2 separate regions of the Homo sapiens genome follow, and region 1 is linked to region 2. Evidence: fine-mapped expression QTL. A gene starts in region 2. The other region holds a variant in brackets. All regions are shown on one strand. Distances are from middle to middle.

Region 1 (5,371 bases), 58 kb after region 2:
CAGATTACAATGGGGAAATTCAAATTGTTATATCTACTTCTGTTCCCTGGAAAGCAAAGCCAGGAGAGCGCATAGCACAGCTCCTAATTTTGCCGTATGTGAAAATGGGGAAAAGTGAAATTAAACAAACAGGTGGATTTGGAAGCACAAATAAACAAGGCAACGCGGCTTATTGGGTAAATCAAATTACTGATAAACGTCCTACCTGTGAAATAACTATTCAGGGAAAGAAATTTAAAGGTTTGGTAGATACAGGAGCGGACATTTCAATCCTTTCTCTACAGCACTGGCCGTCTGCGTGGCCAATTCCACCCACTCAATTTAACATAGTTGGAGTTGGTAAAGCCCCTGAAGTATATCAAAGTAGTTATGTTTTGCATTGTGAAGGGCCCGATGGACAATCTGGGACTATTCAACCAATTATAACTTCTGTACCTATAAATTTATGGGGAAGGGATTTATTACAACAATGGGGAACACAAGTTCTAATTCCAGAACAATTATATAGCCCTCAAAGTCAACATATGATGCATGAAATGGGGTATGTCCCTGGCATGGGAACAGGAAAAAATTTGCAAGGTTTGAAGGAACCGCTTCAAGTGGAAAAACAAAGTTCCCGCCAAAGATTAGGATATCATTTTTGATGGTGGCCATTGTTAAGCCTCCAGAACCTATACCTTTAAAATGGTTAACAGATAAGCCAATTTGGATAGAACAGTGGCCGCTAAGCAAAGAGAAACTGGAGGCTTTAGAGAAATTAGTTACCGAACAATTAGAAAATGGGCACATAGCTCCAACATTTTCCCCTTGGAATTCTCCAGTTTTCCTAACTAAGAAAAAATCAGGTAAATGGAGAATGTTAACTGACTTAAGAGCCATTAATTCAGTTACACAACCTATGGGAGCATTACAGCCAGGATTGCCTTCTCCTACTATAATTCCAAAAAATTGGCCTTTAATAGTCATAGATTTAAAAGACAGTTTCTTTACTATCTCTTTAGCTGAGCAAGACTGTGAAGGGTTTGCATTTACAATTCCTGCAGTAAACAACCTGCAGCCTGCTAAGCATTTTCATTGTTTCACAGATGGGTCTAGTAATGGTAAAGCTTCCTATTCTGGCTCGAAAAGTAAAGTTTTCCAGATGCCCTATACTTCAGCTCAAAAAGCAGAGCTTGTAGCTGTAATTGAGGTATTGACTGCTTTTGATATGCCTATTAATGTGATTTCTGATTCTTCATACGTGGTTCATTCCACACAGTTAATTGAAAGTGCTCAGTTACGATTTCATACAGATGAACAACTGATGACTTTATTTACCCAACTGCCAAGAGCAGTTAGAAGTAGAATGCACCCTTTTTACATCACTCACATTAGGTCTCGTACACCTTTTCCAGGACCTTTGGCTGAAGGGAATCAAATGGCTGACCGCCTAATTGCTAATGCAATCTCAAATGCTAGACACTTTCACAATTTAACCCATGTGAATGCCTCTGGTCTCAAACGCAGATGCAGTATTACCTGGAAAGAAGCTAAAGCTATTATCCAGCGATGCCCAACTTGCCAAATGGCCCATTCTTCATCTTTTACAGGAGGAGTTAATCCTCGAGGATTGGAACCTAACTCTGTTTGGCAAATGGATGTCACACATCTTCCCTCGTTTGGGAGACTAGCTTATGTACATGTATGTGTGGACACCTTTTCTCACTTTGGGCTACAGGCCAATCAGGAGAGCCTTCTGCCTGTGTTAAATGTCACCTCTTGCAGTGTTTTGCAGTGATGGGCATTCCAGCTTCTATTAAAACAGATAATGCCCCAGGCTATCCTAGCCAAACTCTAGCTACATTTTTCTCTTTGTGGAATATTAAACACATTACTGGTATCCCATACAATTCTCAAGGACAAGCCATAGTGGAAAGAATGTATCTTTCCCTAAAACAGCAGTTGCAAAAGCAGAAAGGGGGAGACAGAGTATATGGAACCCCATAGATGCAACTGAACCTAGCATTATTAACTTTAAATTTTTTGAGCCTGCCCAAAGACCAGATGTTATCAGCAGCTGAACAGCATTTACAGAAACCAGCTGCAAAGACAAAAG[C/T]GGAACAACTGGTTTGGTGGAGAGATCCAATTACAAAACGTTGGGAAATAGGTAAAATAATAACTTGGGGTAGAGGTTATGCTTGTGTTTCTCCAGGCCAAAATCAACAGCCGATTTGGATACCATCAAGACACCTGAAACCTTATCATGAGCCAGATGCAGAGGAAGAGATTCCAGGAGGATCCCGAGGACCCCCGGTTGCAGCCATGTCAAGACTGACGCTGCGGAGGACCCCAACTGTCACGAGCAACACCCATCGAACACAGCCACCCACCTGGGGACAGAACAGGAAGCTGTCACAGATGGCGGAAGAAAACCTGAGGAAAGCGGGACAACCAGTCACAATGAATAATTTAATGATAGCTCTGATAGCGGTTATCACCACCGCCGTGAGTATTCCTTCAATAAGGGCTTACACAGAGAACAGTTCTACTTATTTATCCATCTTGGCTGGCAATAATGACTGGATGCAATCACTCTGACAGTTACACATGCTTTCTGATCTCAGTATTCACCATAATAAATCTGCTCTTATAATTGACACACACCACCCTCAAAAACCTATTTGTAAACAGGATTGGAACCAGTTAGAAAAAATGAGCGTACTTGTTTGGAAGATTGCATTGCAGAACAGGCAGAGGTGCTGCACAACGATTCCTGCGGAATCATTATTAATTGGTCCCCCAAGGGGATGTTTAGCTTGAACTGCACCTCTCAGTCTGCGTGCCACGGCCACACTATGTTCAGATGATCTGAACAAAACGGTCAGATGGTAGAAATGGTAAGAAGTACGGCAAGAGTTCCTATTATCTGGAACCATGGCGGTATAGTGGCACCTCAACCTCAAATGATATGGGCTGCTCTAGGAGCTTAACATAAGGATTTAAAATGAAAAGAACAAATATTTAAAGCATCCCAGGCACACCTGACCTTAATTCCAGAACCTGGAGTGCTCAAAGGAGCTGAAAATGGAGAAAAAACACTTGGAAGCTCTGTGATTTCAAAGATGATTGTGCTTTTAATCTGTGTTGTTTGTCTTTGTATAGTCTGCAGATGTGGATCCTGACTCCTGCAAGAAGTAGCTCACCGTGACAAAGCTGCCTTTGCTTTTATCGATTTGCAAATCAGAGAAGGGGGACATATTGGGAGCAGGCCCCCCAAAATCTGGCCATAAACTGGCCCCAAAACTGGACTGGCCATAAACTGGCCCCAAAACTGGACTGGCCATAAACAAAATCTCTGCAGCACTGTAACATGTTCATAATGGCCCCTAATGCCCAGGCTGGAAGGTTGTGGGTTTACAGGGATGAGGGCGAGGAACACCTGGCCCACCCAGGGTGGAAAACCGCTTAAAGGCATTCTTAAGCCAAACAATAGCATGAGTGATCTGTGACTTAAGGACATGCTCCTGCTGCAGTTAACTAGCCCAACCTATTCCTTTAATTCGGTCCATCCCTTCGTTTCCCGTAAGGGATACTTTTAGTTAATTTAACATCTATAGAAACAATGCTGATGACTGGTTTGCTGTTAATAAACACGTGGGTAAATCTCTGTTCGGGCCTCTCAGCTCTGAAGGCTGTGAAACCCCTGATTTCCCACTTCCCACGTCTATATTTCTGTGAGTATGTCTTTAATTCCTCCAGCACCGCTGGGTTAGGGTCTCCCCGACCGAGCTAGTTTTGACACTTCTGTTTCTAAGTTTTGTGGGAACCACCGTCCTGAGCCTAGTTTCTGACATGTGAAGCTGAGGTCTCTGTGGATGGCACATATGAATGTGGAGCTGAGAGACTAGCATGGGCAGGAAGAACGGGGGCAGGGCCTGGGCCTGTTACTATTCATGGGGAGACACCCCTTGGCCCTGCCCTGGGCCCTTTCAGCCTTCACTTGTCTCCTGGACTCTTGGCCCCGCAAGTCACCCCAGACACCACCGAGGTGATCTGGTCTTGGGAGCCCTGGGGCACAGCACACAGTATGTGCCTCAGGCCCCAGGTGCTGGCTGCTTCTGCCCCGTGCTCACTGCTGCTGCGGATTTGGGATGCACCCAGCACTCTTCAGTGGTGCTACTGAAGAGTCCCAGGAGTGGGCCTTGGACTAAGGATGGTGAGGAGCTCTCCTCCCTTTGTCCTTTTGATGGGCCACCTTGGGCCTCAGTAGCTCATGGGGGCTCTCAGCCCTGTGAGAGGGCACAGCCAGCTGTGTTTGGAGCCCTCAGTGGCCGGTTGGGGACCCCGACTCTGCATACTTGCCTAATCAGCCTCCTGGCCTTCCCCACCCCTCCTTGGGACTCCCCAGTGGGCAGCAGAGAGAAGCTCGGGCTCAGGCTCTGCTTTCAGGGAATCAGTGAAGACAGAGCCAGGAGGAGAGCAGGTGGCAAAACAGGACAAGAAGCCAGAGAGACTCAGTCATAGAGGAGACCGCCCTCAGGGAGGGTGCCTGGCTGTGTCTCATGCCACCGAGAAGGCACATTAGAGAGGTGCCCAGCAGCACCCTGGCTCCCTTGGGGGGAAGATTTGCAGGGACAGGAAATCAGAGACGGGAGGAAGCCAGCCCTTGAGGGGAGTTTCTGGAGGATTGGCTGCCTGAGCTGGGAGGGAGTCACAGGGCCACATTTAGGGGGATGTGTTTCTAGGTTAGAATTTTTTCTTTTCTTTTCTTTTTAAGATTAAAGTCTTGGGAATCTTTCTCTGCTTATTAAAAATAATAAATTGAAAGGGATAGGCTAGAGTTAAAAGAGAATCAATGGACCAAGGGCCTGGAGGAAATGGGGCAGGACCCAGCTGGTAGGAGGGGGTGGCTACAAGCAGAAGAAGAGGGGGGCCCGGGCCACTGAGGGGCGAGGGGCACAGATAGGGTGGAGTGGAGGGGTGTGTGAGAGACAGAGACAGAGAGACAGAGAGACAGGCAGAGACAGAAACAGACACAGAGACAGAGAGACAGAGCAAGCAAGAGAGAAAGAGAGAGGGACAGAGACAGAGAGGGACAGAGAGAGATAGAGACAGAGAGACAGAGGTAGACATAGGGACAGAGAGAGGCGTAGGAAGGCTGAATGTGGGATTCACTCTGGCTTTCTCGTTAGCTCTGTGCACCAGGGGAAGCCCTGTTGCTCCAGCTGAAGTGGGCAGAGGCCTGGCAGCCTGGGGCAGGAGGGCAGAACAGCTCTCTGAGGATGGCAGCAGCACTGCTGGGCGCCGTGAGCCCTGGGCTGGAGCAGGGATGGCAGTGGCACCCTTGTGACTGAAGCTTTCTCTAGGAGTTCTGGGAACACCAGGGTAAGGC
Region 2 (5,371 bases):
ACACGGAGCCCTCTGTTAATCTGCTACAAACCTCTCTGCTGCTTGCTGTTTTCAGTGAGTCAACTGAGGCAATGTGTTTCCACAGTGCAGGAGACACACCTACCAAGGCAGCAGGAGCAGTTACCAACGATGGCTTGGCCCCTTTCTACCTGCGCACCCTTGGATGTGACTTCACCTGTGATTCAGTTGCCACATCTATAAATGAAGCTACACATGGTATTGCTGTAAGGAATGAACACAGCAAAGCATCTGAAGCCTATGGTCAGCAGTCAGCTGACAAACGTCAGCCACAAAGCAAACAGGATGCTCCCTGCACTGCACTGGAGTCACTGACATACTGGTTTGTTTTCCCCACCAGACTCTAAGCTGCTTAAGGATAGGGGCTTGTGGTGCTCACTTTTGGATTAACATTTCAACAGCTTATAGAGTTGAGGTTGCAGAAAGCACCCGACAAGCTCGTTAAATAAACAAATGCTGTGTGACTACAGGAGCAGTAAGTGATCTGCTGAGCCAAGATCAACTCAACATTTCTATAAAAGCGGTTCAATGATAGCCAAGAAAGTCTAGTACACACACCCAGCAGTCCCCGTGTCCACAGTTCAGACTGACTCAGTGTTACGTTGTACAGCATCTATGCTACTGCTTGGGTGTACGAAAATCTAAACGCCGTAAGGGGGTTACTCTTTTCCTTAAGAACGTAATCTACAGAGCTCTAACAGTTCAGGGTGTAGGCGGTTTGGCTTCAGACCACAGTTTACTCAGCGACCCGGCAAAAGGAAGTGCTGAGAAGTTGCTCCCCTGGCAACCGCCTCCTGAACCCATGTGACGGGTTTGTTTTCAGTTATCCAGCAGGGTAGCATGTTTGCTGCCGCGACCAATGGCCTTTCAGTCCCGCTGCTCACCAGTTCCCCAGGCGGCCAATCCGGGGCGGCTGGCGCGGGATGACAGCTGGGGCTGTACCCGGACGCCAGGAGGGAAGGGCCCTCAGTCAGCTTGGCACAGCACCTGCTTGAACAGCCAATTATCTCCCTGCCTCATCTCCATCACTGTGCTTCCTCAAACTTCAGAGAGCTGTGGCCCGAACCCGCCCTCGGGGGTGCCAGGTCCTCTCTACCCCTCCTTCATTTCTCTAAATCCCAAGACTGGAGATGCACACTTTCAATCTGTGGATAGTTCCAGTTTCAAATGCATGTTTCTTATAGGCTGAAAAGTACTTTCAACCGAAAAGACACCCTTTTTACTTCCAGAAGAACCAGGAGGGGTACTCACCAGCTGCTGTCCCGCAGCAGGGAGGGACCCACCAGGCGGAGGAAAAGATGGTGGCGATCACCTCCTCGGGGAAGAGAGTGACATTCCTCTGGATCTGCAGCAGGTTGAGCACCAGGGCTAGGACCACCCCAACCGAGAAGAGCACGAGGCTCCTCTGCAACAGGCGATGATGCCAGGTGTTGGGGTAGGGGCTGCCGGGCTCGGGGCCGCTCATCGCAGCACTGCGGCCCCTGGGCGCGGGGTCAGCGTCCGGGGCACCGTGGGCCGCCAGCAGGGAGGGCCCGGACACGGAAACGTTGATCATCTCCCCAACCTTGGCCGCCAGCCCCGCGGCGCTGGCTCGCGGGGGGCCTCGGCGCCTCGCGCTGTGCGCACAGGAGCAGCTCCAGAAGTGGTCGTGCAATCTGGGCATCGGTCACACGCGTCCAAGAGGCGCTTCCTGGAAGAAGGGGGTCATCAAGTTCACTCAGAAGAGACAAAGAGCGAGGAAGGCCCCGCGGGACGCGAACCCCGGCACCCGGGCCAGGCGGCAGCGCCGCCCCCCAAGGTTAGACCCCCGTGCGCCCGCCCGGGGCCAGCGGCGGACGGGACCCGCGCTCACAGCGAGCAGCATCCCCGGCCCCAGCGGGACCCGCGTCCCAAAGACCCAACAGGGCCCGCGCCCGCCTACCTCCGGGGAGGACCGGCTGCTGCGCGACCAAAGCCCGCCCGCGACCCCTATCCCAGCCGGCCGCGTACCTGGCCGAGAGGCGCCCGCCCGCCGGCTCTCCGAACGGAGGCGGGGCGGGGGAAAGGAGGAGTCACGGCCCGGGACGGCCGCAGCGCCTGGCGGGCGCGCGGGTTTATATGGCGGGCCGCGGGGCCCGCATCACGTGAGCCTGCCCGGCCTACCCACCGCCCGCGCGCACCGCCCAGGGGCGTGGCCTGAGCTTGCCCCGCCCCGCCCGCGAGCCCGTCCGCACGCGGTCTGGTGAGGCGGCCGCAACCAATGGGAGGCCGGCGGCCCATATGACGTGCGCACACGCCACCGCCGGCCCGCGCGCACTCGGGCGGGAGCCTCGGCACGGACTGCGGGGCGCGTGGCGGCTGCGGGGCACGCGGGCCCGAGCGGGACTGGCCGGCTGCGAGTGGGCGGCCGCGGAGCTGGGGCCTGGGAGGGGACGGTCCTGCCGGGAGGAGGCGGAGGCAGGACAGGGTGGGGTTGCGGGCCCGGCGCCGCCCCTCCCGGCTCCTGGCTCCCCTCGCCTGGTGTCCCGCGCCTGGCCGGGAGGCGGCGGGTCTCGATCGCGCGGGCCTCCCTGGAGGGGCGCGGGCTCTGGCGGCGGGGAGGCCCCTGCTCAGCGCAATGGCGGGCTTGCATCCTTGGGTGATTTTTTCGGGCCCCTTGTGGCCTTTGCTCACGCCTAGAGAGCAAACCACCCGCACCACCCAGGAGCAGATAAAATCGAGACCACAGCCTCCAAGGGAGCGCGCCTCCATCCTGTTTGCCCCTCGGGTCGCCGTCTGAGGGCGGGCCCGTGCCCGCTCAGAGCCTACATCCGAGTCGTATAAAGCGCTGACAGCAGAGAAAGCTGCGGCTTTGCTCCGTGCAGATGAGCAGGGGCTGAGGGAGGACGCTGTGCTCTCAGTAGCCGCGCTTGGCCCGGGGACCCTGCAGGCTTAGAAACGTGAGTCACGCCTGCAGCGTGGCGAGGAAACGCCGTTGATGTGGCATCCTCAGCCTGGGGTTGTGGCTTTAAGCCAGAAGGTCAAAAAAAGAAGTCTTCCTGAGCTGAGACTGCCCTGAGTCGCTTTAGGGGCGAAATTCCGAGCATCCGGTTGCATTTCCTGAGGATGACACGCGTGGTGGGTGTGGACGGCCTACAGGGGTCCATCCTCAGCGGCCCCTCTGCAGGGCAGTCTCGCTCTCACTCTCCCAGCTGACTCCTCTCAAGCCTGTTAACCATTGTACACGTTCCCAAGGACTCCAAGCAGGTTGGACTTCAGGGAACATTGCAGTTTGGGTCTTGGCCATTGTTTACACTCCACCTTGCATAAGTGCTTGAGGATCACACAACCAGATACGTAGATCATCCGTAGATCATCGCAGTCACATCGAAGATTTGTTTATAATAGGAAAAAAAAAAGCTACCCACTGTCATGCGCTGGGAAACTAGTGAGCTGAAGGATGACCCATCTGTAAATGGGGTGCTCCCTAATGGACAGGGCACCTTTCAGAAGCCTGTGCTGTGTCTCCTCGACCCCACTGTGAGCTCCCCGTCCCGCACGCTGATCTAAATCAAGCTGCTAACCTCATGGAGAGGCGTCCGCACGGGAGCCCCGGCCCTGAGATGCGGGGCAGTCACCCATTCAATTAGGAAACACCAGCAAGTGCCAGAAGCTTCTCATTAGCAGGTCAGCTTTCAATAACTGGTTTATCCAGGTGTGTGAGACCCGATAAGCAGAAGGGAAAGCTCTTAGCGACCTATCCAGCTGCTCTGCACTGGGCTCCTGACATCCCAGAAATCAGTACATCTGTCTTCTGGGGTCCAAGAGGTATTTCAGTTTCTCTGGCTTTGTTTCCCGTCATTTGTACCTGGCCCTGCAGACTACCCCAGTATTTCCATCATAATACCCCTGTGGGCAGGTGCATACCTCATGACAATATTTAATATTAATAGATTTATGTGTTGTCTCCAGAATGGAAAGGGGCTGTCTATTCCTTGAGCTAGTTGGCTTGCTAAAGACTATTGACTTCATTCTTCTTTTCCTATCTACCTAATAAACCAGTGTTCATACAACCCAGCCTCTCTGACTCTGTCCCTCCTCTCATCTGTACTGGGACATTATGAACCATGGAAGATCCTGGAGTCATAGAGGCACCCTGTGGCTCTGTGGCTGTTGCACTTACACCGACCAAGATGTCCCGTGGGAATGTGGGAAGGTTGCCCGTGGGGTTCCTGCTGAGGGCCTCCAGCGTGGCCTCTGAGTCGTAGGTAGAGATTGTCACTGCGTTCCCAATGTGTGTTTGCCCAGGTGCCTGTGGAGTCTGGCCCCATGAAGAAATGCAGCCTGGGGTAAAGACAGTGGGAGAGTTTGAGTTTACCCCCTTGAATACCCCCTTTGAAGACCGAGCCTCCATATCAGTAACCACATTCCAAGATTTTCAGGGGTTGAAATTTGCTTATCCTCAAGCAAAGCTGTTGTTGATTTTGTTTCCCTGCTAATCGTGGGCCGTGTGTTGAAGATAATGGGGTTCATTCTCTTCAGCCCCTGTCAGCCACTCTGAGTTCAGCATTTAGGGAAATCTGCTCATGATGGCACCGTTTAGTTCTTAATTGCCCCACAATACAGAAATCATCACAGATGTGGCCTTACTCTAGGGGAGTTGACTATTGTTGAGTTAAACACCTCGCCGTGCCTTCCCAGATCACTAAGTAACCCTCAGACTGGTGGCCTCTGTACTGAACAGGCTGGCGGAAGGGAGCACAGGACGGCTGTAGCTCTTTCGGATACGGAAGAATCATGCACTCATAAAGGCCTAAAGACTGGGAGGTGTCACGTAGTGAGCAATCTTGCCTTTAGTCTGTTCTTACTGTTCTTTTTATTATAACATTAATAACCATTTGTAAGAAATATTCTTAAGATAAAGTAGATTACCAAATATATATTTTTTCATATAAAAGCATCACATGCTCATTGTAAAACATCGTGGAAAAATATATTTTAAAGAAATAGTCTATAATCCTACCAACTAGAGATGACCATTGTTAACATTTTGAGGTATGTATTTCCAAATATTTTTTCTATCCATAAATGTGTTTAAAAAAACACAAATAGGATCAACTTCACATTAGTGGAACCAGTTATTAAGTGATCATGAACGTCTTTTAAAGGCAATCAATACAGACTACGCCATTTTTTAATAGCTTTAGTGAGGGCGAATTCATGCATTGTGCAATTCACCCATTTAAACGGTGAATTCAGTGTTTTTTTGTGTATTCACAGAGTTGTACAACTATCATCACAGTCCATTTTAGAACATTTTCATCACCCCAGAAAAGACCTTCATATGCTTTAGTTATTGCCTCCTTATCCCGACTTCCACCCCCAGCCCACGGCA

Evidence for each region. PIP is the estimated chance that this variant, and not a neighbour inherited with it, causes the effect.
Region 1: its variant is the best candidate, but not a certain one, in a credible set for the expression of INSIG1 in whole blood (INTERVAL, PIP 0.77).

What each region holds. Positions count from the first base shown.
Region 1 is chr7:155,236,604-155,241,974 of GRCh38, reverse strand. LOC105375587 (a long non-coding RNA gene) reads left to right here. Exons shown (of 5, transcript XR_001745437.2): 4 at 2,192-2,484; 5 at 3,142-3,706. Among named protein-coding and RNA genes, the nearest start is that of INSIG1, 59 kb to the left of the region's middle. The variant C/T (reference allele first, on the strand shown) is at 2,096.
Region 2 is chr7:155,294,596-155,299,966 of GRCh38, reverse strand. INSIG1 (insulin induced gene 1) reads right to left here and starts at 2,089. Exons shown (of 6, transcript NM_005542.6): 1 at 2,008-2,089; 2 at 1,270-1,708. The coding sequence starts at 1,681. It overlaps INSIG1-DT (INSIG1 divergent transcript), which reads left to right and starts at 987. Exons shown (of 2, transcript NR_183448.1): 1 at 987-1,816. RefSeq lists enhancers at 564-633, 3,044-3,093 and a silencer at 1,754-2,583.